Linked DNA regions of Homo sapiens. The protein of the gene in region 3 interacts with the protein of the main gene of each other region in a pairwise test. Each region holds a gene or a part of one and is shown on either strand. Other genes may lie near its edges.

What was found.
Region 1: the proteins of IFIH1 (region 3) and RIOK3 interact in binary tests that used the Homo sapiens proteins (3 or more experiments, as listed by UniProt).
Region 2: the proteins of IFIH1 (region 3) and TKFC interact in binary tests that used the Homo sapiens proteins (3 or more experiments, as listed by UniProt).
Region 4: the proteins of IFIH1 (region 3) and MAVS interact in binary tests that used the Homo sapiens proteins (3 or more experiments, as listed by UniProt).

The regions. Positions count from the first base shown.
Region 1 is NC_000018.10:23,463,276-23,470,303, forward strand, and holds part of RIOK3 (serine/threonine-protein kinase RIO3), read left to right. Parts: intron 1-691; coding exon 692-837; intron 838-930; coding exon 931-1,038; intron 1,039-1,243; coding exon 1,244-1,353; intron 1,354-2,857; coding exon 2,858-3,001; intron 3,002-4,123; coding exon 4,124-4,251; intron 4,252-7,028.
Region 2 is NC_000011.10:61,329,380-61,336,255, forward strand, and holds the start of TKFC (triokinase/FMN cyclase), read left to right. Parts: upstream 1-3,848; 5' UTR 3,849-3,950; exon of another isoform or gene 3,951-5,240; 5' UTR 5,241-5,349; coding exon 5,350-5,352; intron 5,353-6,460; exon of another isoform or gene 6,461-6,558; intron 6,559-6,824; exon of another isoform or gene 6,825-6,870; coding exon of another isoform or gene 6,871-6,876. Other genes in the region: DDB1 (DNA damage-binding protein 1), read right to left, coding at 1-205, 579-695, 2,164-2,312, 3,529-3,589.
Region 3 is NC_000002.12:162,266,657-162,273,684, forward strand, and holds the end of IFIH1 (interferon-induced helicase C domain-containing protein 1), read right to left. Parts: intron 5,732-7,028; coding exon 5,570-5,731; intron 1,622-5,569; coding exon 1,431-1,621; intron 914-1,430; coding exon 823-913; intron 724-822; coding exon 544-723; 3' UTR 418-543; downstream 1-417.
Region 4 is NC_000020.11:3,842,958-3,849,840, forward strand, and holds the start of MAVS (mitochondrial antiviral-signaling protein), read left to right. Parts: upstream 1-3,876; 5' UTR 3,877-3,946; intron 3,947-6,883.

The DNA.
Region 1 (7,028 bases), on a different chromosome or scaffold from region 3:
GGGTTTTAGTTATATCGCGTTAATGCTGCAGTTGAACTAGATGAGGTACAGTTTTGATCAAGTGTTTGTAGTTTATCTTTTCATGAATATGTATCTATTCTTTCATTATGGATGAATGAAACATCCAGACTTTCTTTTTTTTTTTTTTTTGGAGATGGAATTTCGCTCTTGTTTCCCAGGCTAGAGTGCAATGGCACAATCTCGGCTCGGCACAACCTCCGTCTCCCGGGTTCAAGTGATTCTCCTGCCTCAGCCTCTCGAGTAGCTGGGATTACAGGCATGTGCTGCCACGTCCGGCTAATTTTGTATTTTTAGTAGAGATGGGGTTTCTCCATGTTGGTCAGGTTGGTCTCGAACTCCTGACCTCAGATGATCCGCCAGCCTCAGCCTCCCAAAGTGCTGGGATTACAGGCATGAGCCACTGCACCTGGCCTCATACTTTCATTCAGAACAAATGAATTCTAGGCCTCAGTTTAGCTTTCTCTCCCAGTTCTCTTAATCCTAGTTGGTACTCCCACAGGTGCATGCCATTGGTCTTAAGGCTAGCTGTGCAGGAGAAGGTAAATGGTTTGATAGAGTTCTTTCCCATTGTTCAATTTTAACATGGAAAAGGCACCTCCTACTCTCATAATTGGCAACCTCTGTTTACTTAAGCACATTACATTAGTTTATATTGCCTTATTTTGAATAGTGTTGCTGAAGGACCATTTATTACTGGAGAAAACATTGATACTTCCAGTGACCTTATGCTGGCTCAGATGCTACAGATGGAATATGACAGAGAATATGATGCACAGCTTAGGCGTGAAGAAAAAAAATTCAATGGAGATAGCAAAGGTATTATAACCTTATTGTGACAACTTCATTGAGTGGTAGAAAACACTCATAATGTGCTCCTAAGTAAATCTTCAACTATTTTTGCTTCTTAAGTTTCCATTTCCTTTGAAAATTATCGAAAAGTGCATCCTTATGAAGACAGCGATAGCTCTGAAGATGAGGTTGACTGGCAGGATACTCGTGATGATCCCTACAGACCAGGTACCAAAGTTTTTACTTTCTGGGGGCAGCAGAATAGAGGTATAGGAAGACTAATCTTTTCAATGAACTCTTTTAGTTTTATATTTTTCTTTGAATCTCATTTGGTAATTTACTCTTAGATTCAAATGTCTTTTCAGACAACGTTGAATGCAGCAATGTAGTCTTTGCTATTTTTATATACCTGGCTTATTTCAATTGCCTTTAGCAAAACCGGTTCCCACTCCTAAAAAGGGCTTTATTGGAAAAGGAAAAGATATCACCACCAAACATGATGAAGTAGTATGTGGGAGAAAGAACACAGCAAGAATGGAAAATGTAAGTTACAGAAAGTATCTATCTCTGAATTTAGAGTTTTGTTTGAATACCTTTCAAAAACAGGATTCTAAATATAATACCTTAGATTTCTAAAAATGTCTTTCTTTCTAAAGATGTTTTTAGATAACAATATGGCAATATCATGGAAACTGAGACATTAATGAAAATATAAAGTACCTCAGAATAAAATTCCATAACAGTGTTGAAAAACTATTTTGACTCACATTGATTCTAAAATTAATAAATAGTTATTATGAAATTAACATTTATTCTTCATCATATCTCTATAAAATAGCATCCCTACCCAAAAAACAGATAACGGTGGCGATTGGGGAATACAAATGGGAGGGAGAAATACTTTTCACCATATACTCTTTTGTGCATTTTGAATTTATTATCTTGTGCCTGAACTACCTGTGTAAAATCAGAAGTAAAGTGTAACTTTAAAAAATAGCATTCTAGGCCGGGCATGGAGGCTCATGCCTGTAATCCCAGTATTTTGGGATGCCGAGGTGGGCAGATCACCTGAGGTCAGGAGTTCAAGACCAGCCTGACCAACATGGAAAAACCCCATCTCTACTAAAAATACAAAATTAGCCAGGCATGGTGGCGCATGCCTGTAATCCCAGTTACTCGGGAGGCTGAGGCAGGAGAATTGCTTGAACCTGGGAGGCAGAGGTTGTAGTGAGCCGAGATCGTGCCACTTCACTCCAGCCTGGGCAACAAGAGTGAAACTCTGCCTCAAAAAAACAAACAAAAAAAAAGCATTCTAAATCCTTCATAAATATTGTGGTTAATATAATATATTAAACATTTAGATTTTAAAGCACAAATGCTTGTTAAGTAAACATATTCAATTATATCATTTCTAGAAATATTCCAGATCTAATTCTAGAAGAGTTCTGTCCAATAGAACTTTCTGTGGTAATGGAAATGTTCTGTATGTGTGCTGTTCAATATGGTAGCCACATTTGCTGTTGAGCACTTGAAATTTGGGTGGTATAATAGAGGAACTGAATTTTTAATTTAATTTTAATTAACTTAAATATCCAAGTGTGGCTAGTGGCTACCTAACTGAATTGCACAGTTCTAGAACATAATTGTCATGGTGTGAACATAGTCTGCTATAACAACCCACTCTCCACAAATAATTACAAAATTGTATTTCTTTGGTAAGATTTGGTGTAGCCTTCACAGTTCAATATTGTGTCCTTTGGCTAAAAGCAAGGTACAATGCACATGCCGAAAGACCTTAGTTTTGGATGTGATGAAATGTTTTCTATGCCTGGAATAAATGCCTTCCTTTGGGTTGTAATTTCTTAAATAGTATTGCTCCTCTTTCTGTGAGTTATTTAATTTTTTTCTCTGTAGTAGCTATGATTTCTGGTTTTCTAGTGTGATCATCTATTGAGTAAGAAAGACTAATCTCATTTGGTTGTTTTTGTTTTTGTTTTTAACTGTCCCTATTTTAAAATATTTAGATGCTAATTCTTCCTTTTGGCAGTTTGCACCTGAGTTTCAGGTAGGAGATGGAATTGGAATGGATTTAAAACTATCAAACCATGTTTTCAATGCTTTAAAACAACATGCCTACTCAGAAGAACGTCGAAGTGCCCGCCTACATGAGAAAAAGGAGCATTCTACAGCAGTAAGGATTTATAGATTTTTTTTTTTCTTTTTTACTAGAAAGATTCATATTAGAAAACTTTGGGTAAAGAAAAAAAAACTTCATGTTTGATATTTTTTCATGAGATTGGCTTTTTAAATCAAAGATGTAAATAAATCCAGCCACTGTGGTGCCCGCCTGTAATCCCACTACTTTGGGATAGCAGATGGAGACAGGAGGATTACTTGAGCCTAGGAGTGCAAGAACAGCCCAGGCAACATAATGATCCCCAGCTCACAAAAAAAATTAGCTGGGCATCATGGCACACACCTGTGGTCCCAGCTACCCGGGGGGCTGAGGTGGGAGGATTGGTTGAGCCCAAGAAGTTGAGGCTGCAGTGAACCATGATTGTGCCACTGTACTGCAGCCTGGGTGACAGATTGAGACCCTGCCTTAAAAAAAAAAAAAAAAAAAAAAATGTAAATAAGCCAGGTGAGGTGGCTCCCAGCACCTTGGGAAGCCAAGGTAGAAGGATCGCTTGAGCCCAGGAGTTCAAGACCAGCCTGGGCAACATAGGGAGACCCTGGGAGACCCTGTCTCAGCAAAAGTTTTAAAAAATTAGCCGGGCATGTTGGTGTGCACCTTTAGTCCCAGCTGCTCAGGAGGCTGAGGTGGGAGGATCACTTGAACCCAGGAATTTGAAGCTGTAGTGAGCCATAATCATGTCACTGCATTCCATCCTGGACAACAGAGTGAGACCCTGTCTCTCTCTCTGTCTCTAAAAAAAAAAAAGATATTAGGCCAGGCGTGGTGGCTCACACCTATAATCCCAGCACTTTGGGAGGCCAAGGCGGGCGGATCATGAGGTCAGGAGTTCGAGACCAGCCTGGCCAACATAGTGAAACCCCATCTCTAGTAAAAATACAAAAATTAGCCAGGTGTGGTGGCGGGCGCCTGTAATCCCAGCTACTCGGGAGGCTGAGGCAGGAGAATCACTTGAACCTGGGAGGTGGAGGTTGCAGTGATCAGAGATGGTGCCATTGTACTCTAGCCTGGGTGACAAGAGCAAGACTCCGTCTCAAAAAAAAAAAGTTATTAGAAGTGGCTCAGAAAATATTTTGTGATTAGCAGTCATTTTCACTTACAGTGCTTTATCTCTTGCAGGAAAAAGCAGTTGATCCTAAGACACGTTTACTTATGTATAAAATGGTCAACTCTGGAATGTTGGAGACAATCACTGGCTGTATTAGTACAGGAAAGGAGTCTGTTGTCTTTCATGCATATGGAGGGAGGTAAATGAGCAAAATATGATACCATGATATGAAAACTTAGTCTCTTCTCCCCAAGATTAATGAATTTACACAGAATCAAAGATAATGCTGCATGGCAAGCAGAGTAATTTTTAAAGTGTTATTGTAGAAAGTCTAGGCAGTATAGGAATGTATAAAAAACACAGTCATCCTAATACCACCACCCAGAGATAATCATTAATAATTTTGGGTAGACTTCTCCAGTTTTTTTCAATGCGTATATTATTATTATTATTATTATTATTTTTTGAGATGGAGTTTCACTCTTGTTCCCCAGGCTGGAGTGCAGTGGCGTGATCTTGGCTCACTGCAATCTCTGCCTCCCGGGTTCAAGCAAGGTCTCCTATCCCAGCCTCCAGAGTAGCTGGGATTACAGGCACATGCCACCACGCCTGGCTAATTTTTGTATTTTTAGTAGAGACAGGGTTTCGCCATGTTGGCTAGGCTGTCCTCAAACTCCTGACCTTAGGTGATCCACTCGCCTTGGCCTCCCAAAGTGCTGGGATTACAGGCGTGAGCCACTGCTTCCGGGCTTCCTCATCTTTATCAGTGTTTAGTATTATCAAATCTAATGCTTTTTGTCAGTGTGAGAGATGAAAAGTAACATCTTGGTATTTTGGTGTGCATTTATTTAATTATGATTAAGTTGTACATTTTTTCCAAGTGCTTTATTGGCCATTTGTATTTCTTTTTCTTGTCTTCTCTCTTGTTTATCCTTTGTCCATTTTCTGTTATACTCAATATACTCCTTTTTTTTTTTTTTTTTTTTTTTTGGGAGATGGAGTTTTGCTCTTGTTGCCCAGGGTGGAGTACAATGGCGCAATCTCAGCTCACTGCAACCTCCATCTCCTGAGTTCAAGCGATTCTCCTGTCTCAGCCTCCCAAGTAGCTGGGATTACAGGCACGCACCACCACGCCTGGCTAATTTGTGTGTTTTTAGTAGAGATGGGCTTTCACCATGTTAGCCAGGCTGGTCTCAAACTCCTGACATCAGGTGATCCACCCATCTTGGCCTCCCAAAGTGCCAAGATTACAGGCGTGAGCCACTGCGCCTGGCCTGGTATACTTAATATACTCTAATATAATAAATGTTCAGTCTTTCTGGTGGAATTGGTATCATAATCTGTACTTTGACATTTCTAAGTTAGCAAAACTAGAGAACATTCAGTTTTCTACAGCTAAAAGTTAATGCTTTTAAAAGTTTGTTAGTTTTCTGTGGTACATAATAAATTGCCACAGACTTAGCAGCCAAAACAGCATCCATTTATTATCTCATAGTTTCTGTTGACAGAATCCAGGCATGGCTTAACTAGGTTCTCTGTTCAGGGTTTCACAAGCCTGCAGTCTAGGTGTTGGCCAGGCTGTGTTCCTTTCTGGAGCTTGGCGTCCTCTTCCCTTGGCCACCTTTCAGTTGCAGCTATACGACTGAGGTCCCACTTTCTTGTTGGCTGTCAGCAGTGGGCTGCTCTCAACTCCTTGAGGCCCCTGCAGTTCCTTGCCATGGGGCCGTCTCACAGGCCTCTTCACACACTAGCTCTCACACTTTCAAAGCCAGCAGGAGAATCTCTCCAGTCTGCTAAGACTGAGACTTAGTGTTATGTTATCATGGGAATGACTAGACCATCACCTTTGCCACATAACCTAACCAGGGAGTGGCTATCCCACACATGCTCAAGGGAAGGAGGTATTATACAGGGGTGTGCACACCAAGGGGGCTGGGAGTTTTGCTTTCCACAAAGCTCTGGTTCCTTTCTTTCTTCCTCTCTCTCTCTCTCTCTCTCTCTCTCTCTCTCCCCCTCTCTCCCCCTCTCTCCCTCCCTCCCTCCCTCCCTCCCCTCCCTCCCCTCTCTCCTCTCTCCCCTCTCTCCTCTCTCTCTCTCTCTCTCCCTCTCCTCTCTCCTCTCTCTCTCTCTCTTTTTCTTTCTTTCTTTCTTTTTCTTTCCTTCTTTCTTTTTTTTTTTGAGATGGAGTCTTGCTCTGTCACCCAGGCTGGAGTGCAATGGCGCAATCTTGGCTCACTGCATCCTCTACCTCCCAAGTTCAAGTGATTCTCCTGCCTCAGCCTCCCCGGTAGCGGGGATTACAGGTACACACTACCATGCCCGGCTAATTTTTGTATTTTTAGTAGAGACGGGGTTTCACCATTTTGGCCAGGCTGGTCTCAAATTCCTGACCTTGTGATCCAACTGCCTCAGCCTCCCAAAGTGCTGGGATTACAGGCGTGGGCCACTGTGCCTGGGTCAAAGCTCTGGTTTCTGTCACTCTCAGGTTGGTCAGGCAATCAACAATTATTCAAACAGTAATTTGTGCTAGATTACTCAGGGAATAAAATATAAGACATATTTTTTACTCTCAAAGAGCTTAAGCTTTAGCTAAAAGGAGAACATTACAGTAAGAACCATTATGGTCAATGAAAGATAATTACATAATAGAGTACCCAGTTATGCAAACGAGACCTTATATGGGATAGGAATAGCGAATAGAACAAGATCATTGCCAGGCACATTCAGGGAAGATATCATAATGAAGTTGGATCTCAATCTGGATTTTAAAAATAGGTTAAAAAAAGAAATCCGTTGGAGGACCGATGGGGGCGGATCACGAGGTCAGGAGATCGAGACGATCCTGGTTAACACGGTGAAACTCCGTCTCTACTAAAAAATACAAAAAAGTTAGCCGGGCATGGTGGCGGGCATCTGTACTCCCAGCTACTTGGGAGGCTGAGGCAGGAGAATGGCGTGAACCTGGGAGCGGAGCTT
Region 2 (6,876 bases), on a different chromosome or scaffold from region 3:
TAGTAGGTGCTTGGCAACCATATAGGAACTTGACATCAATGACATGCAGCTCCTCCAGGCGGATGTTGAAGGCCTTGAGTTCTTTATTATCGCGATCTAGTGGAATAACCTTGAAAAGGCCATCATAGAGACGCAGGCCAATCATCCGGCACTCAGGGTCAATGATGCCAATAATGCCGGTCTCTGAGGGGCGGCCAATGCGGTCCTGAGAAACAAAATCGGGATTAGGGAAGAACCTCAACATCCACAGAGCAACAGAGGACGCTGGGCACCACTTGTGCAGAAAAATTTTAGGAGAGGTATTAAAACTAATGGATCTATTTGATAGGCCAAATAGTTGGAGCCCCAATGTCAGTGCATGCCTTTTTCATGAAACACTGAATCTCAATGAATTATTACCCTGTCCCTTGGGTCTTGAGTGAACTACAGGAGTCCTTTCTCCAAAAAGCTCAAACCCATAGTGTCTTCTCCTTATTTCTCTGATCGAATAGAGAGCTGCCCCCAGCACTTTAATTTTTTCCATGAATCATGACAGCCCTACTTAGAAAACTTTCATTGGCCTAAAGCAGCCACCTCACCTGGACATTGCCATGGGCTCGCGTAATGATGTCAATGCTCTCGCCACTCTGTTTATACTCCAGGATGCAGGCATTGTACTTCGCTGTCAAGATAAACAGCAGGTCCTTGCTCTCCCCCTGGAAACCAATATTATGCTATCAAAAGAGGTTCTTTTTAAAACAGGAACAACCTGTCCAGTCTTTAAGCACACCAAATTCTTTAAGAATTTTCCAAATTCTTCTCTCCCTAAAGAGAAAATACATGGTGAGCTTGTAACCCACACTAGGTACACATACACCCTAAGGGCATGTACAAAAAGCCAGAACTGAAGCTGGTAAACATCTAGTTCTCACTTTCATGATTCTCCATCTCTCTGTTCTACAAACAAAGTCTTCATCTATTTCAATCTCAAGCTAATCTCAATCATCCCATTCAAATTCTGAAAGATGAATGTAATGCCTCCTCCACTCCTCCCCAAGTATTTGAAGAAAGAGGAAAAAAAATGTGGGAATAACAACGGAAGCTAAAATGGATCAACAAAGTCCTACTTATTTAACACAGACTCCAAAAAATTGCTGTTTTGTTCAAAGGGTTATAATTAAAATTTTGAACCCACTGCTTTCTTGCCAGATTCAGTTAAGACAACATAAAGCAATGTGGTGGTGATTTGGATGAAAACATTTGCGCTAAAATAATGAAAATACTGATGGTAATTGTTTTTTTTGTTTGGTGTTTTTTTTTTTGGAGATGGAGTCTCGCTCTGTCACCGGGCAATGGGCGCCATCTCCACTCACTGCAACCTCCGCCTCCTGAGTTCAAGCAATTCTTGTGCCTCAGCCTGCCAAGTAGCTGGGATTACAGGCACGTGCCACCACACCCGGCTAACTTTTGTATTTTTAGTAGAGATGGGGTTTCACCATGTTGGCCAGGCTGGTCTCGAACTCCTGACCTCACGTGATCCACCCACCTCGGCCTCCCAAAGTGCTGGGGTTACAGGCGTGAGCCACCATGCCCGGCCTGGTAATTGTTAACATAACTGTAAATGCTTGCTATATGATAGGCCCTATGTTACTGAATCATTTCATCGTCACAACAACCCAGGGGATTTGATCTGAAAGGTGCCTTAAGTGGCACCTAAAGTCAGAATTAACAAGAAATGAAGCCAGGACTGCCCCACTCTGTAGCCTATCCTCTGAAACAAACTGCTTTAATTTCTCCCTTCTAAAGAAGTCAACTTCATAAATGTTTCCCTAATGAATCTCTCCTTTTACTTCTAGAAAGCTTGGTCAAGAGTACATACTGAAATTTGCTATCCAAAGAGAGAAAAAAGAGAAGAGTTTTTCTCCTAAAGCATATTCCACCCATCCCAAGAATTCGCAAAACAACCTAACACAGCCCAAGCACGGTGGCATGCCTACAATACCCCAGCTACTCTACTCCAGAGGCTAAAGTGGAGGGATTGCTTGAGCTCAGGAGTTCAAGACATCCTGGGCAACACTGTGAGACCCCCGTCTCAAAGAAAATAAATAAACAAACAAAAATAACATAAAACAACCTACGACCAACAGTTCCCCCTCCACTGCTTGTCCCAACTGCAACACTTACCTTGGGCCTGAAAAGCTCCATGACCGCAATCTTCCCATACATGCCCACCTCTTTGACGGGCCGAAGCCCCTCGGCGGTGACCACATAGATCTCTAATCTCGTGTTTTTGGCAATCAACAGGTTTAAGTCTTCGGCCGAAGTAAAGTGTCCTGAAAGAACAGACCCTCTAACTTTTGAACTCAGGGGAAGGGCCTCCCATCCCTTCAAAATAATCCTATCACTTATGTCTAAATACCTCCAGAATTCTCATTTACTTCACATACTTCTCCAACTCCCTCCAGCTACTCCCCTTCTTGCCAAATCCGGCACCTCAAAGAGTCTCAGTTCATGCATTCAACAAAGCTACTTCCCTAATCAGACTAAGAAAACTGGACTGGACCTAAGAGCCGTGTGTCCTCCAAATGACAATGACTGCGTAATCCCTTCTCATGCCTCTTGCCCCTCCAATTTTACTCTATTACAGTTACAGTGGCAGGCTCTAATTGAGAATGCCGGAGAAAGTGTTCACTTCTTCCAGTCTTCATCTAAAGTCTCACAAAACTTTTATCTGACAGACCAAGTCAAATGAAGAAGTCCCAGAGCTTTATATGAAAACACTGTTTTGTCCACACCCCCTGCCCTCCTGGCAGTCTACCAATACCTCCATCCACACTCAGCTACCTCCAACTCTGAACAACAGTTTTGTTTTGGAATCATGATTAGGGTGTATATAAACATGCAAGCTTGGGGTCTGCATATTCAGCTGAGAATGTGGGTTAAGATGACTCTTCCCGGGTTCTGAACATCGGTGTCCTTAACAATCCAAGCGCATCGTCAACAAGGCAAACCCAGCACTGGGCCAGGCAAACCAAACCCTCTTCTCCAGCAGGGCCCTCATGTAAACAACAGCCCCAGGCAAAGGGGTTAGCCTGAAGAGGGCTCCTCTCCCTCTGTGGGATAATGCGGGCATTCCTCACATCCCTCCACCTCCTGGGCCCCCCAGACTTCCCCACAGGAAAATCTTGACCCCAAAGTCGTCATTACCACCTCCCCTTTTCCTGGCCACAGAAAGCCAATCTCCGGGCCCAAACGACACCGCACAACCAACTCACACTCCTCTGTCTCACTGGGCCCGCCCTGTTCTCGAGGCCGAATGACCTCCCCAGGACGAAAGGGGACCCTCGAGAGCGGCTTCCAACCCCCAAAAAGCGCGTACAGGGACGACTCTTTCGAGGTCGCGGTGCTGGGGGAGGTTCCTCGGCCGCCAGCGCCTTCCATTCGCCGGGCCCACTCCTGCCCGGCCGCCCCCGGGGCGGCGGGCCTCCCTAGGCCGCGGCTCCCCCCAACTCCCTCACTCGCCGGGGTCTCCGGCCCCGGCAGCCTCACCGGTCACGCAGCCGTTCACGGCGGTGGGCTTCTGGGCCGTTACCACGTAGTTGTACGACATGTCGAGGCTTGGAGCGGCCCGTCGGGACTCGAGCGCGACACTAGAAAGAGGGACACAAGCGAAAAGACAGGTGGCCCCCAACAGCGCGCAGCGAACTCCACTGCCGCTGCCTCCGCCCCAGAGACACGTTGCAGGCCAGAGCGGCCGGGGCGCGGGGCATCACGGGACGGCCTCACCTGGCCTCTTGGAGGACTCCCGAAGCCCGAGGCCGCCAACCGAAGGAGGCCCCGCCCCCGGAGGCACCGCCTCGCCTCTTTCCGCCAGCGCCCGCAGGACCCGGATGAGAGCGCACGCTTCGGGGTCTCCGGGAAGTCGCGGCGCCTTCGGATGTGGCGGATGCGGCCGTGAGCCGGCGGGGGAGGTGCGCCAGTGTCCTCCGAGCTCGCCCGCAGACTCCCCACCCCGTTCCGCGCCCTTTGCCCTTCCCCGCATCCAGTCCTCCTTCCGTTGCTCCAGGAGCCCTCGGGCTGTTCCTCCTTTGGGAACGGGAAGGACTGCGGAGGCATAGAGAGGGAAGGGAGACCGCGATTCGTGCATATCCCAGACTAGAACCTTGCCTGCTTTCCTTTCACTGTCTCAGTTCCTCCAGATCCAGCTGGTGCCCTCGCCTGACGTTTGAACGACCACCTGCTCACCTCCTCCCTTTTGCGCGTTGATTCTTCAGACTTCAAAGGGCCCACCGGTCTGCTTGCCCAACGTTATTAGTGCCCCTATTGCTCTACAAATTCGAACCTCAAACACAAAACCAGTATTTCTCCGTAGGGAACCTTAATGAGCCAGGAGAGCCGTCAGCCCTGCAGCCTCCAGGGTACCCCACATCAAACAGGCTCCCCGGGAACAAGAGGAATACCACGTGGCTTGGCACACTCGCAGAATGCCAGAGAGGAGCCAACCCCCATTTTACAGATGAGGAAGCTGAGGCTTAGGGAGGAATTGGTTTACCTAAGACCCTCCCCACAACCCCAAGTAGGCTGAGGCAGAGCTATGTTGATTCTTCCTATTGTGCACCCACACAGAGGCCAACACGCTGCTGAACCAGGCTGAACTGAGGAAAAGCTAGAAAGTCATCGTGGTTTACATCTTGCCTTTCCCATAGCAGAGACTCTGCCTGACTTTGGAGGCACTGAATTATCAGTAGTAAAAACACACTCTGTAGAAAAACTAGACATTGGTTTAGATTCTGGCTGTTACCTGTATTACCTTGGACAAGTCCCTAGAGCTCTCTGAGTCTGTTTCCCAGAAGTAAAATGGGTCACAAACCTGGCTAGCTCCCCCCATTCCCTTCCCTTTTGGTGCCAAGGCCAGTGAGGGCAAGCGTGTGACGAGCTTTGTTAACTTTTTCGCTGCATGTGATGCCCGTGTAAAAGATAGTTATTCTGAGGATCACTGTCCTTTAGTGATGAAGTGGGTGCTGTTCCTGGACATAAAGGCAGACCTGTGCTTGACATGGATTGATCTGTCTTCTGGCAGTGAAGTGCAGGCATGAACCTTGGTCAGCCCCACACTCTTCTCCATCCGTAGCCCATGTACTAGAGTTTGGACTTGGACCGAAGTCTGGGGCAGCTCCCTAATTACTAGGGTGCTGAAGGCGTGATTGTGCCAGTCGACTGCGAGTTCCTTCCGCAGCTTGTATCGTTACCCACTCCTGCAGGTGCTGCTGCTGCCTCCACTGTACTCAGACCCAGGTAGCACAGGATTGTCCATCCTCCAGCAGCTCAGTGCAACGGTGTGAACTCAGCCTGTTTCAGAGCCTCCACACCATGGTGAGTCATACAGGGCCGGGACGGGAATGGCAGCATGGTCTCAAAGCAGGATCCCAGCCTTGGGCAAGCTAAAGCTCCTTACACTTTGACTGAGAGATGCTATTGCCTCCTGAGGCTCACGGGTGAAGAGAGAGGGTCATCCTCTCTCCCAGGGTCTGATCCCTGCTTTTCTTTGTTTCCTGGAGGCTGCTGGTCCCAGCCAGGCCTGGGGCTGCAGCCTCTTGAGTCCCTTCAGAGCCACTCTGCCCCTTATCTGGGTCTTGCATTCAGAGTAAAACAGTAACAGTTACCTGCTCTGTAATAGACATTGTACCGGTCACAGAAGGAATCGTGAAGAATGACCATGTGACCGTTCCTAACCTTGGGGCTTATGTGGGCCGGTCTGGAGCTGGGATCTACAGTGTGGGAGGCTGGCCATGTCCCTGGGCTTTGCTCCAGGCCCACTGATTTGAACCAAAACAAGCCTTGAACATATCTGGATTCAAATTTCAGCCTGCCACTGACCAGCTGCATGACCTTTTACAGACCTCTCTGCGCCTCTTTTTCTTCATCTGCATTATAAGGCAAATTAAGGCCTACCTCCAGTGGTTGTGTGGTGTTGATCAAGCAGAGTCCTGGAGGCCTCACTTGACTTCCTTTCCTTTTCCATCCTTTCAGGCCACTGAAACCAGGGATAGCACTGGTCCCTAAACCCTCTTCTGGCTCTGTAAAAGACAGATTATCATGATGGGGAGCAGGCCACTTTCTTGGAGGGTAGTGCTGCTGGAGGCTGGGCTTGGAGTGAGGCCAACTCACAACTTCATTGTGTGTTCCAGTCCCTGGTAGGCTCTGAGAGCCACAAACCCATGTCCTTTCTAGGGCAACCTCTGTCACCCTCCACTTCCCTCCAGCCCCTCGAGAAAGCAGCATGATATGGCCAAAAGGGAACCAGCTTTGGAGCCAGGCAGACCTGGACACCTGCTGGCTGTGTGACCTTGGGCAAAATAGTTTAACTGTGCCTCAGTTTCCTCACTGGGCTCATCTTTCCTCCATAGGGCTGTTGGGAAGTTTTGTTTTGTTTTAGTTTGGGTTTTTTTTTTTGAGACGGAGTTTTGCTCTTTTTGCCCAGGCTGGAGTGCAATGGCGCAATCTCGGCTCACCACAACCTCCGCCTCCCAGGTTCAAGCAATTCTCCTGCCTCAGCCTCCCGAGTAGCTGGAATTACAGGCATGTGCCACCACGCCCAGCTAATTTTGTATTTTTAGTAGAAATGGGGTTTCTCCATGTTGATCAGGCTAGTCTCGAACTCCCAACCTCAGGTGATCCACCCGCCTTGGCCTCCCAAAGTTCTGGGATTATAGGCATGAGCTACCACACCCGGCCTGTTGGGAAGATTAAATGAGACATGCTCAAAAACACTTAGAACTGGGCCTGGCTCTTAGTCACTGCTCAGCAAATGGAACCAATCTTATTGTTCTTCTTGCTCCCTACAGACCTAGGCTACTCTGAAGCAGGTGGCTTAGCCCTGGCCCTGGCTGGATGCAG
Region 3 (7,028 bases):
GATGAGAACACAGTCTGGCTGACACCTCAATTTCAATTTTGTGAGACCCTGAGCAAAGAACCCTGCCTTTCTGACCAACAGGACATGTGTTATAATTAATGATTGTTGATTTAAGCCACTACCTTTGTGGCAATCTGTTATAGAGCAATAGAAAATTAATAAAAAGTAAAACTAGAGAATGTTATGACCATTTCATCGATAAGGAGACTGGTTCAGAAAGATGAACTGATTTGCCTAATTTTATTCTGAAAATTAGTGACAGAACTGAGACTGGTACTTTGGATTCTCATTTGTACTTCAGCATTCTTTCCACAGGACTATAATGCTCCACACTAATGAGAATTATTGGTAGATTTTCCTTACCTCTGCCCAACAATAAGATGGATAATGCATAATATATTGTGTTCTTAAAAAGAGTTCAATGCAGAGTAAAACAATCATTTTATTGATTCTTATGTCAGTTCTGTAGCATAATGAATACATTAATCATAATCATATTAAATGTTTAACTGATAGTATTTTAAAAGAATCTTCAATCAAGTGCTAATCCTCATCACTAAATAAACAGCATTCTGAATAGTCAAGATTGGGAAATGTGATAGGTAATTCTACCCACTTTTTGTATTGTTTCTTTGTTGAATTATTTTTGAAAACCACTACAAAATTCCTTATTTTGAGACAAGGCAAATCTAAGCCTTTGTGCACCATCATTGTTCCCCAAGCCTGGAAAACAAAAGAGAGAGCAAGAGGAAAATTAAATGTACATGCAATTAAACATTCCTGTTGGCTAAAGTAAAATCTGGCCCACAGCAATTTACTCACCTGGCCACATTTGCAGATGATTTCACCATTTATTTGATAGTCGGCACACTTCTTTTGCAGTGCTTTGTTTTCTCTTACAATGTAAAGTTCCCTATAAGTATCAAAGGGAAAGAATCATCATGGAGAACTGACAAAATACCAGTGTGTAGTTCATGGGTTATTGGACCTGGAGCTCATCCGCATGCCTGCGGTATTCTACACGGCATTCCTTCCTTCCCTCCTGCTTCCCAGGCTTGTTATTGCAACTAAGGCAATGCTTCTCTTCTACACATACCTCTCAAGGGGCATGTTGCCTTTCATAACTTCTTTCAAGTCTGTTGGTTATATTAACTTGACTTTAGTTGTTCAAAAATTTGAGAACAAATGATGAGCATACAAAAATACGTGCCTTGGATCAAAATGGCTTTGGTTCTTACACTTCTCTTTTCCTGCCCCAGTGCAGTTTATTTAAAACATAGACATTTAAAATAGGAATATAATTGAGAGGCTAAAGGAGAGGAAGTTGTAAAATAAATGAATCTCATTTGCACTATTTTGAAAGAACATTTACAATGCAACCTGCTTCACCCCTTGTGGAAAAATGTAAAAATGGGTCTTTCTGGACTCACTTGAATTCTGGGGTCATATTGACGTGATGCATTTTCTCAATTACATGGATATCTTCCCCAGAACAGGCTAGCACACTGCAGTTTTTGCAAAGGAAAGTTATTAGTGATGGGTTATTCTTGTAATGCTTGGCAATATTTCTCTTGGTTTTCATTTTCTTTTCCATTATACTTTGCATCTGTAATTCCAAAATCTGGACAGAGAAAGGAATAGTTAGTGGTTTCAGGTTTGTTTTCTTTTTTCAGTTTCATAGAAGTAAGTCTCCTGAAATTTGGAGGTCTTAGTTGTGAAAATATACCCTTAGCTTATGGTCTAGGAAATAAAAATAATGAGGTAATGACCCCCCAAAGAATTTGGTATATAATCATCTCCTGTAACCATGAAAATGTGCAGTCTTCAGGTATTCAAAAAGTAGCCCATTCCATTTCAGAAAAGTTCTATTGTGAGAAAGTCCTTAGCAATATTCAACAAAAATTCTCTGTCTAGCCTACCCATTTGTTATTTATTTATTTATTTATTTATTGAGATGGAGTCTTGCTCTGCTGCCCAGGCTGGAGTGTGTTGGTACTATCTCGGGTCACTGCAACCTCCATCTCCTGGGTTCAAGGGATTCTTCTGCCTTAGACTCCCAAGTAGCTGGGATTCCAGGCACCTGCCACCATGCTCAGCTAATTTTCATATTTTTAGTAGAGATGGAGTTTTGCCATGTTGCCCAGGCTGATCTCAAATTCTTGATCTCAGTGATCCACCTGCCTCAGCCTCTCAAAGTGCTGGGATTGCAGGTGTGAGCCACTGCGCCAGCCTACCCATTTGTTTTAATTCTGTTCCATAAAATAGGTCTAAACTTCCTTCCACATGGAATCTCTTTACTAAACACTGTTATTACATTACCAAGTCTTCTCTAATCTATGCTAAGCACCCAAATGCCTTTAATCTTTTTTCATGCTTTATAATTTTCAGACCCTTCACCATCTTAATCAGTCTACTCTTTACACATTTGTAGCAGAAACCACTAGTTTTTCATTCAGTGTCCATTTTTCCTAACAGAACCATAATTTTATTCTGGGTGGAAATATGCTAGCTAAATGACTACATTTCCAAACCAGCAGTCAATGACATGTAAAAAGCTGTTGAGTGGAATTTTCAGAAAATCTTCTTAAAAATTAGATAGCTGGCATGTGTACCTTTCGCCCTTTCCATTCTCCTCTTACTTCCTGCCTAGAATGAGGATGTGGCAGCTGAAATTCTAAAAGCCATCTTCGACCATGAGAATGAAAGCCCAATGCTATAACAGCATAAAAAGGAGAGAAAAGGCCTGGATTCCTCATAACTTCATGGAGCCAATACTGCCTAGATTCCTTCTGTGAGAGAATATGCCCATCAACCTCTTTATTCTATGCTCTGTGACTAGCAGCAGCACTTATTTTATAATGGAAATAATCTAGTTTATGTAACATATGAAAGTTGACATAGGGACTGAACAGTGTTTATACCAACACAACTTCACGGTAGAAAAATCTGGTTCTTGAATAATTTACCGCCAAACTGACCTCTCATAGATGACATATTTATATTAAATTATGGAAGAATTAATTGTTTTCTTTAAGACCGAGGGAGAAATTTTCAGTAAAAGTAAGTCATCAGTGCAGTTGAACAAAGCCCATCTCTTTGGCTTCTAACTCTACATTTTAGATCTCCCTTCAAGGCAGCCATATATAGCATAGAAAAGAGAATAAAACCTTGCAAGCAAGCCTGGAGGCTATATAATAGATTAATCAGACAAGTACCAAGATTAATTTCCTATGTAAATTATAGCAAAATAATACACTGAAATATTTTTCCCTAAAAGTTTTAATAGGTTACTTTTATAAGACATTTACAGTTCAATGAGCTGATAAGGTAATTATAGGATCACATACATGTGGGAATTAAGAAATGTGTATGAATGAGTCAGAAAAAAAATAAAGCCAAGGTAAGTGTATGGATTTGTAATCAGGACATCAGAAGCTAAAAGACTAACTCTAAAATAGTAAAGGAATTTGAAGTAACTAGAGGGGTAAACAAACAAAAAAAAGAACTCATAATAAATATACAGGAGGCACAGCTACAATCAGCCTAAGTCCAAATAAAGTGTAATAATGTAGCAAAAAAATTGAATCAATGCTAGAGAAAAACATTTATGATGATCAACTTGCTCCTAGAAGTCTGATTTAATTTTAAGAAGCTCTGTTATGTTTAAACTGTGTTTATGACATGGAAGAAAGATTTCATCTTATCTGTCAATTCTCATCATTCATTAGTGGTTGTCTGAAGATTGTGTTGAGAAAGATGCTCAAATTAGAAGAAAGTAAACATCTTCCCAGTAGCAATGTTTTCTACAGGCTTTGAACAGATTACTGGTGGCATGTAGCCCTCCTTCCCCATTGCCACTCCTACTCTAAGTTCATCTACCTGAAGTAGTTTTAGGAGGGCAGGTTTCTTGGCCAAAGGAGACCTAAAAATATAGTCCATTCTGGGGCACCCAAAGGGACAGAGTCTTATTCTAAAGAATGTCTGGAAGAATTTGACCCTTAAACTCCAGAGATTGTCCTAGTGTTGACCCCCAAAAAACTACTCTTAAAACATCAGTCTTTGTAAACATCTACTTGATTAATTCTCTTAGGACATTAACTGGGAGGCAGTAACTTTCCAGTGGCATAATTTGGTGACAAAAGTTTGATTTGATACTCTAAAATATTTGCTTTGCCTTGTATTTAAAGGGGTTTTAAAATAAAGTTTTGTGCAGAAACCTGGTCAGGAAACCTTGGAGTTGGTAATAGCAATGCACACCAATTTGAAAGCATCCCTTTAGTGAAACTCTATTTAAGGTAGAGCCAATTCCAATGTTAAGAAACTAACATTCACACCCATATGCAAGGGTGTGAATTTTCTTCTAAATGGATTGTTTGCTATTATAGTAGTTACAGTTTTTAATTCAGTGGTATGGGGGATTTCCTGAAATACTATAGAAATACATTCTTTCTTCACTGCATTCCTTTGCACAACTCAAATAACTGTGTGTTAGTAAATTGAGATGTAGCTAGATGACATATTCTGTATTTTCTTATCATTCAGATGCAGCTTCCCTGTCACTCCTTCTAAGAGACCTTCCTCAACCACCCAGTTGAAAGTATCCATCTAGTCTATGCAGCCATAAAAAAGGATGAGTTCATGTCCTTTGTAGGGACATGGATGAAACTGAAAACCATCATTCTGAGCAAACTATCACAAGGACAGAAAACCAAACCCCGCATGTTCTCACTCATAGGTGGAAATTGAACAATGAGAACACTTGGACACAGGGCTGGGAACATTACACACCAGGGCCTGTCGTGGGGTGGGGGGAGGGGAGAGGGATAGCATTAAGAGAAATACCTAATGTAAATGACAAGTAAATGGGTACAGCACACCAACATGGCACATGTATACATATGTAACAGACCTGCACGTTGTGCACATGTACGCTAGAACTTAAAGTATAATAAGAAAAAAAAGAATTTCAAAAACTACTAAAAACAAGAAAGTATCCATCTAGTCAGTTGTTTCATATCATCCTATTCTAATTCTCTTCACTTATCTTGATATATTATATTTCTTGTCTTTTAATGTTTGTTTACTGTTTCTGTCCTCCAAACTTCACCAGGCACACACTAGAAATATAAACTTCGTGCAGCAGGAGTCTTATGTGTTTTGTTTCCTCTGTTGGCTGTTCCTATAAGGTTACCTGGCACACAGTAGGCGTTTCATCTACATTTCTGAAATTAAAAAACTGTGCCTTTACAAACAAATTGGATCAAACCAAAATTACCATGTTGGATTGAATCAGTGAGTTGCAGCAGTCTTTCTGGAACAAGGCAGGCTAAATTTATATTATCCAAATTTATGGTTGGTTTTACTGGAATGAGGAATGGCTCCCTGATAATTTCCTGCCCACCATGGATCTTGATTCTCTGCATGTGAATCTGGATTAAGCACAGTTCACTAAACAGAAACTTATAATTCAGCACAATTTTTGTCTGGAGAATGAGTCACAGAGATATCAATGGCAACCACATGCCGCCATTTTTAAATGAAAATCAAATTCAGAGGTGACCAACAATACCTTATGAGCATACTCCTCTGGTTTCATATTTTGAACACAATGTATAGCTTTATACATCATCTTCTCTCGGAAATCATTAACTGTCTCATGTTCGATAACTCCTGAACCACTGTGAGCAACCAGGACGTAGGTGCTCTCATCAGCTCTGGCTCGACCACGGGCCTGAAAACACAAATAAATCAAGTAAATGAAAGGGTACGTTGTGATACAAATCCTCCTGGTTTTTTCTGGGAATGATATTCTTGCTCAGAATGAAATGATATTGGGTTGTTCAGCATGCCAGTCTTCAAATGGGTAAAGTTAGTAAAGTTAGTTATTAATCCATTACTTGTAAGTCAGCTCTTTGAAACTTATAATATGCTTTAATACAGAAAAAGTGTTCTAGAGTGATGATGGTTAGGCCTCAATGACATAATATCATCCTGTCCAGGCTTTTTGCTCTCAGAACTTCTCTCTCAAACTATGAGAACCACGATCAATGACTTGGACTGAGGAGTCGTCTTTCTTGGTAGGAAGCTGGGAGGAATGAATGGAGAGAAGGGTCATCTCTGACCTTGACACTAGGGCTGGTGAGAAGGCAGGTCAGTTTCTGGCATCCTACATTACATTCTTAGCACATTTTCCCATGGGAACATATTTAACATGGTGATAACTTTCTACAAGCCTCTTTATGAAAGTGATATTCAGGTATATTTTGATTAATAGAAACTTCTGTGGCCTGGCCCAGGAGCCTATCAACTATAAAAGTATCCTCAAGGAAAAATGTATTCTAAGTTTGATTACTAAGCTTATCACTGACTTACAAATAGACTCCTGAAATAAAATTATTTGCTAATTTGATGGCAGTCTGGTTATCTTAGTCTTCTATGACTTGCCTTTTATTCAAGGATGCAATTTAAGTTATTTAAAAATCCCTTTAGTTAATTTTATAGGAAGAATAGTGTATCTATTAATCAGCATAACACCTATGCCTACTCAACAGGTTACAATAATGCCATTAACATAGGTGGGTAAGAGATAAAGTGAAATCTGAATGAAAACAGAACATTTCACTCTTTTATTTATTTTTACATTTATAAGTCTGCCCCCAACCAACATTTTATCATGAAAACTTCTAAACACACAGAAAATTGGAAAGGATAAGGGAAGAAAATGCAGAAACAGCAGGGCTCCCTCAGGTTTGGGCATGTTACTTCATCAGACATTTGTGGGACAGTGTACTTTAGATTCCTGGTCCAGCTGGGGGCTCACAGACATCCTAGGAAAGAGGAGGCTGCTTTTGACTCTTACAAATGGGGCTAGTGTCATGGTCCTGGAAAGCCTTAGGGTACAGAAATAGCTAAAGAGGAGTTGTTGTTTAAACATACAACAGGTATCTGGTTATTATATGAATTGACAGCAATATGAAAGGCAACAGTGCACAGCATTTTAAAAATGCTCTTTTAACAGGAAAAAGGCT
Region 4 (6,883 bases), on a different chromosome or scaffold from region 3:
GACTTGGAGACTCTGTATTGTAGGAAAAAAAAAAAATACTAGAAAAGACACTGGAGCGTCACCAGCAGTCACCCCTGGATGGTGGCATTATTATTATTAGTAGTATTTTTTTTGAGATGGAGTCACTCTGTCGCCCAGGCTGGAGTGCAGTGGCATGATCTTGGCTCACTGTAACCTCCGTTTCCTGGGTTCAGGCAATTCTCCTGCCTTAGTCTCCTGAGTAGCTGGGATTACAGATGTGTGCCACCATGACTGGCTAATTTTTGTAGATGGTGGCATTATGAATATGGATTTTGGTTTTCATCATCAAATATTTCTGTTTTCCCCACATTAGCTGTAAACAGTATATATTTTTGGTAAATTAAGTTGAAAGAATGAAAAAATTAAAATAGTATAAAGAATATCTGTTTAAGTGCAGTGGAGTGTGCCTGTGGTCCTAGCTACTTCGGAGGCTTAGATGGAAGGATTGCTTGAGCCCAGGAGTTCAAGACCAACCAGAGCAATGTAGCAAGACTGTGTCTGTTTTATTTTAAAAATAAATAAATAAAACATAAAGAATAACTGTTTAAAATACTATTCAAAATGAAGTCATAAAGGAGGGGATTATGTTTTTTAGTCATAGTTCCCTCAAGGGCTCAGACCGGAGAACATAACCGAGTTTGGAGCCCTCTGGCACTGTCTTTGCGCCTGACCTCTGCTCTCCAGGGGGTGACGTGAGCTGGTGGGTGCTGAGTCATCATGGGTGGGTCACAGCCTCCCTCGGAGGCCTGGAGATGGGCCTGTCTGTGCTGAACTTTACTGGGCAGGGGGCAGCTCCAAGGCCCTCACTGGGGGCAGCCTAGAGCATAGATCACTCTCTGGACTTGCTCTTCTCCTAATAAATGGACAGTGATCAATGAATTACACCCATGAAATAGGGTGGGATGCAATAAGAAATAAAAGATAATATAAATAGCCAGATAGGGTCAAAAGATGATTTATTTTACTTTATATTTTTGAAATAATTTCAGATTTACAACATAGTTGCAAAAATAATGCAAATGTTTACATCTTACATAACCCAGTACAATGATCCTAACACTGACAGATTGTTGTTGTTGTTGTTAATTTGAGACAGAGTTTCACTGTTGTTGCCCAAGCTGGAGTGCAATGGTGCGATCTCGGCTCACTGCCGCCTCTGCCTCCCGGGTTCAAGCGATTCTCCTACCTCAGCCTCCTGAGTAGCTGGGATTGCAGGTGCCCACCACCATGCCTGGCTGATTTTTGTATTTTTAGTAGAGACAGGGTTTCACCATGTTGTCCAGGCTGGTTTCAAACTCCTGACCTCAGGTGATCCACCCACCTCGGCGTCCCAAAGTGCTGGAATTAGAGGCGTGAGCCACCATGCCCAGCTAGATTATTGTTAACTGATCCAAAAGCCTTATTTGGATTTCACCTGAAGTCCTTTTTCTGTTTCAGGATCCAACCCAGGTTCCCATATTGCATTCAGTTGTCATGTCACTTTGGTGTCCTTTTCTCTGGAGCAGTCTCTCAGTCTCCTTGTTTTTCCTGACCTTGAAATTTTTGAAGAGTTATTCTGCAGAGCAGTGCTATCCAATAGAACTTTCAGTGATGATAGAAATGCTCTGTTTGGGCCTGACGCTGTGGCTCACACCTGTAATCCCAGAACTTTGGGAGGCTGAGGCAGGCAGATCACCTGAGGTCGGGAGTTTGAGACCAACCTGGCCAAGGTGGAGAAACCCCGTGTCTACTAAAAATGCAAAATTAGCTGGGCATGGTGGTGCATGCCTATAATCCCAGCTACTCGGGAGGCTGAGGCAGGAGAATCGCTTGAACCTGGGAGGCAGAGGTTGTGGTGAGCCGAGATCACGCCATTGTACTCCAACCTCAACAACAAGAGTGAAACTCTGTCTCAAAACAAAACAAACAAAAAAAATAGAAATGCTCTGTGTCACCGAGTATGAAGCCATTAGCTACATGAAAATAGCATTTGAAATGTGGCTCATGGGCCAGGTGCAGTGGCTCACGCCTGTAATCCCAGCACTTTGGGAGGCCAAGGTGGGTGGATCACTTGAGGTCAGGAGTTTGAGACCTGCCTGGCCCATATGGTGAAACCTCGTCTCTACTAAAAATACAAAAATTGGCCGGGCGTGGTGACATGCGCCTGTAGTCCCAGCTACTCGTGAGGCTGAGGCAGGAGAATCACTTGAACCCGGGAGGCGGAGGTTGCAGTGAGCCGAGATTGGGCCACTGCACTCCAGCCTGGGTGAAAGAGTGAGATTCTGTTTCAAAAAAAAAAAAAAAAAAAAAAAAGAGAAATGTGGCTCGTGGGTCTCAGGAACTGGCTTCTAAGTATTATTTAATTTTAATTAAAATAGCTACATGTGGCTAGTAGCCATTGTATTGGATAGGACAGCTGTCAAATGTCTCTCGTTTTGGGTTTGCTTACTGTTTCCCTATGATTAGTTTCAGATCATGAGCTTTTGATAGGAATACCATAAGCATGTTGTTGTGTTCTTCTTTGTCTAAATCTTTATAAAAGCTGTTGATAGGTGGCAGGGAACCACCTAGTCAGGCAGTGGGATTGTTTGAATGCTCTTTGAGGTCCAGCAAAGACAGGAGTGATAGCTGCACTTGGAAGCCCGCTCCTACACTTTCAATGTTCTTCCTGAAAGAATTAGATATGAAGCTGCTAGAGCTGCTCCGGTGGGGAGCAGGCAGGATTGATTCTTGAACTAATCAACATTTATGCCCTCTTGGCTAAACTAGGCAGAGCTGGTTTTATTACAGTTCAGGTGTGATTAAGCATACTTTGTAAATGCTGAAGGTTGTGAAATATTCACAGGGATATAAAGTACAGTAATAAAACCTCACTTGAGGCTGGGCGTAGTGGCTCACGCCTGTAATCCCAGCACTTTGGGAGGCCGAGGTGGGAGGATCACCTGAGGTCAGGAGTTTGAGACCAGCCTGGCCAACATGGTGAAACTCCGTCTCTACTAAAAATACAAAAATTAGCCGGGCGCAGTGGCATGTGCCTGTAATCTCAGCTACTTGGGAGGCTGAGGCAGGAGAATTGCTTGAACCCAGGAGGTGGAGGTTGCAGTGAGCCGAGATCGCGCCATTGTACTCCAGCCTGGGCGACAGAGCATGACTCTGTCTCAAAAAAAAAAAAAAAAAAAAAGAATAGAAGACCCTGTGCCTGGAAGATCGTAGGTGCTCAGTAAGTGCTGGCCTCTGCCCCAGAAGGGGAAGGGCGAGGCAGATGGCAGGAACTGCGGGAGGTACCTGTCCCAGGCCCTTGGGCGTAAGAGGCCTCTCCCACGCAGCACCCAACCCATACCCAGCCTGCCCGCCAGCCAACCTTGGCGTCCCTGCCTTGCGCCTACCTACCCAGCAGTCCCCCGCCCGCTCCCACTCCCACAGGCCCAGCGTGCACGTCTCCAGGATAGGCATCCTTGCCCCTGTGACTTCAGCGGCACCCAACGTTTATTGGGCACTAACTGTATGCCAGGCCATGGGGGTGCCGGAGAGAACGACACGAAGACCCTCACCCCTCAAAGTTCCCAGGGGGAGGAGGGGCTGCTTCACTTGGGAAGCGTGGGGATGGAATTCTCAGCCCCCCGATGACTCCGAGGCCGGCCACCTGCCTGGTTTCTGGCCGGACACCGGACTTCCCCTGGAAGTTGCTCGAGACTGCGCGCCCCCAGCAAAAAATCAGGTCGGTTCTCCGAGCCCAGTCTAGCGCTTCCCGACCCGCAAACCAAGGCCCAGTGACCGTCCCCGCTGCGCAGCCGCCTGCGTCGCCAGCCAACCACGCGCGGCCGAGTAGCCCCGCCCCTCCACATGGCCAATGGCCGCGCGCTCTGCCCGCCCCGCCTCCTCGCTGCGGGAAGGGTCCTGGGCCCCGGGCGGCGGTCGCCAGGTCTCAGGGCCGGGGGTACCCGAGGTAAGATCGCTTCCCGGGCGTTGGGTCCTTTCGGCTCAGCACGCACGGACGCCTTTAGGGAAGGTGGCTGCAGCGGCAGGACGGAGTCCGCCGGGACGCCCTGGGTCTGGGGTGCGCGGGGGGCCCAGGAGGGGACAGGACGCGCGGGGATCCGGAAGAGCGGGCCCTGTCGCAAGAGTTTCGGGAACACTGAGGGCTCCAGGCGCCGCATCCAGCATCCGGGGAAAAGGGGGTAGGTGGCGCTGGGCGTCTGCTCAGGCTGGGGGAAAGGTAGGGCCAGAAGGGGACGGGCAGCGGCCGCTGACCTCCTCCTGCCGCCCGCGGGCCCAGGGTGACGCTAAGGTGGGGCCGAGCCTCGACCGGGTGCGCCTAGAGGTCGAGTGCTGCCGCCCTCCGCTGGGTCTGGACAGTTCTCGGCGGCGACACCAGCTCAAAACGGCCTCCCCGCCCTCCGCGGACCTGGGTCGCGCCCAGGAATCCGATCCAAGGCTGTGAGGCCTGTCCCTTTGGGAAGGGTGGGTGTTTATTTCCGGGATGCACTCAGAGCCTCTGGACAGTCAGGTCGGAAACTTTGCTGTATTGGGAACACTCTGTCACCTACTTCCTTCTCAGTTGGGAAGGAAGTGCCAAGAAAACATGAAACAAACCAAAAACACGAAAAAGGGATTCTCTGTATGGAAGCCGTGAAGCCTCAAAAATATCTAGGAGGACAGCCAGCGACCTGGGACCTGTGGCAGCCATGTGAAAGCAGGGTTAATGTCTGGACTAAATGTTGCTTCCACCTAAGTGCACCCTCAGCCTCCCTCCCGCCAAGTGACCTTGGGTCCTCTTTGGGCTTGAAGGCAGGTGGCTGTGTGGGTCTCGCTGCAGGGGTCTCTGTGCCCTGCAAGGTGTATGACCAGTTGCAGTGAGGCAGCAGGTTTTGGGTTCAAATCCTGTGCTAGCCTCTGGCCAGCTGTGCACCTTGGCAACACTTTCCCTGTCACGGGATTGGGGAAGGATTAACTGAAAGAACCTTAGGATGTGCCTGTCTACAATGGGCCCTCCATAAATGTGAACAAATGTGGGCTTCCTTTCCTTTTGTTTGGGCCACATCATCCCTTCCCCTCCATCTGTGGCTGAAGCTGGAATGCAGAAGAGTGCCTCATCTGACTGCCTTCTGGTACCTGGCTGATGCCATGAGAAAGGAAGGAGAAAGGGGTCTTTTTTTTTTTGAAATGGAGTCTCACTCTCTTGCCCAGGCTGGAGCGCAGTGGTCCAATCTTGGCTCACTGCAACCTCTGCCTCCTGGGTCTAGAGATTCTCCTGCCTCAGCCTCCTGAGTAGCTGGGACTACAGGTGTGTGCCACCATGCCTGGCTAATTTTTGCATTTTTAGTAGAGACGGGGTTTCACCATGTTGGCCAGGCTGGTCTCAAACTCCTGACCTCAAGTGATCTGCCTGCCTCGGCCTCCCAAAGTGCTGGGATTCCAGGCGTGAGCCACCGCGCCCGGCCGAGAAAGGGATCTATTAACTCCCATAGAGTTGTTCTTTGCTAATTTCTTGAAGGCTCAGAGGACCCCCGCCTCACCTTCCTGATTCTCCTGACCTGTCATTAGTACTTGCCCCACGAGGAATGTAGCAGGGCCTGCTGGCTGGCAAAGCAACTCATGCATGTGAGGCTCTGAGGCCAGTGACAGGACTGCTTCCCCTGTGAGGAAGGTCTGGTGGCCCAACAGCTTTTAGGTGCTGTCTGCTCTACAGCACTGCCTCCTGAGAGAGGTCTCATGCCTGCCTGATGCCCACTTGGTCCTCTCCTGCCTCCTTCCCTCCCTGACAACCCACTTGGAATCCAATAGCATCTCAAACTTCACTTGTTCCGAACTGAGTTCTGGAGTCCCTTCTGAGCCACTGCTCCTCCCCTGGCTTCTCTGGCCTGGTAAAAGGGCACCTTCCATCCACCCAGTGCCCAAGGAGTCATGCTTCTTTTCTCTCCCTTATCTCCTACACCCTCAAAACACCAGGAATCTGGCTGCCTCCTGCCATCTCTGTGGTTCCCATCCTGACCATAGTCATCCTGTCTCCTGGGCTGTGGCCTCCTTACTGGTCTCCCAGTTTTCATCCTGGCCCCTCCAAAGTCCTCACAACCACCAGAGAAGTCTTTAATGTAAATCAGATCCTCTTCTTTCCCTGCCGGAACCTTCCAGTGGTTCCCTGTTTCACTCCAACTAAAACCCAGAGTCCTTTCCTACAGCACTCTACATGAGTGGCCCCTGCCACCTCCTTGACCTTGACAATCTCTGCCCCTTTCCCTAGCTTGCTTGCTTTTTTTTTTTTTTTTCCTATGATGGAGTTTTGATCTTGTCACCCAGGCTGGAGTGCAATGGGATGATTTCAGCTCACTGCAACCTCTGCCTCCTGGGTTCAAGCGATTCTCCTGCCTCAGCCTCCCGAGTAGCTGGGATTACAGGCGCCCACCACCATGCTAATTTTTGTATTTTTAGTAGAGAAAGGGTTTCACCATGTTGGCGAGGCTGGTCTCAACCTCCTGAGCTCAGGTGATCCACCCGCCTAGGCCTCCCAAAGTGCTGGGATTATAGGCGTGAGTCACGCAGCCAGCCATCCCTAGCTTTCTTGACCTAGACCACACTGACCTGCTTTCTATTCTTCAAACATGCCAAGCTCATTCTTGTTTTAGGACTTTTGCATTTACCATGCTCTCTGCCTAAAACACCAATCTTCTCAGAGCCTGAGAACAGCTCAGCTGTGTTCTGCACGCTAGTTCAGAAAGGCTTCTTTGACCCCCTAGTTCAAGTAGCATGCCTGTCTCCAGGGGCTCTGTCTCATTACCTGCTTTACTTTCTTTAGAGCCTTTATTGCTATCTGGAACTCTTATTTGGGTATTAATTTACTGATCTGTTATTTGTCCCACCCCATTAGAATATAAATTGGATGTGG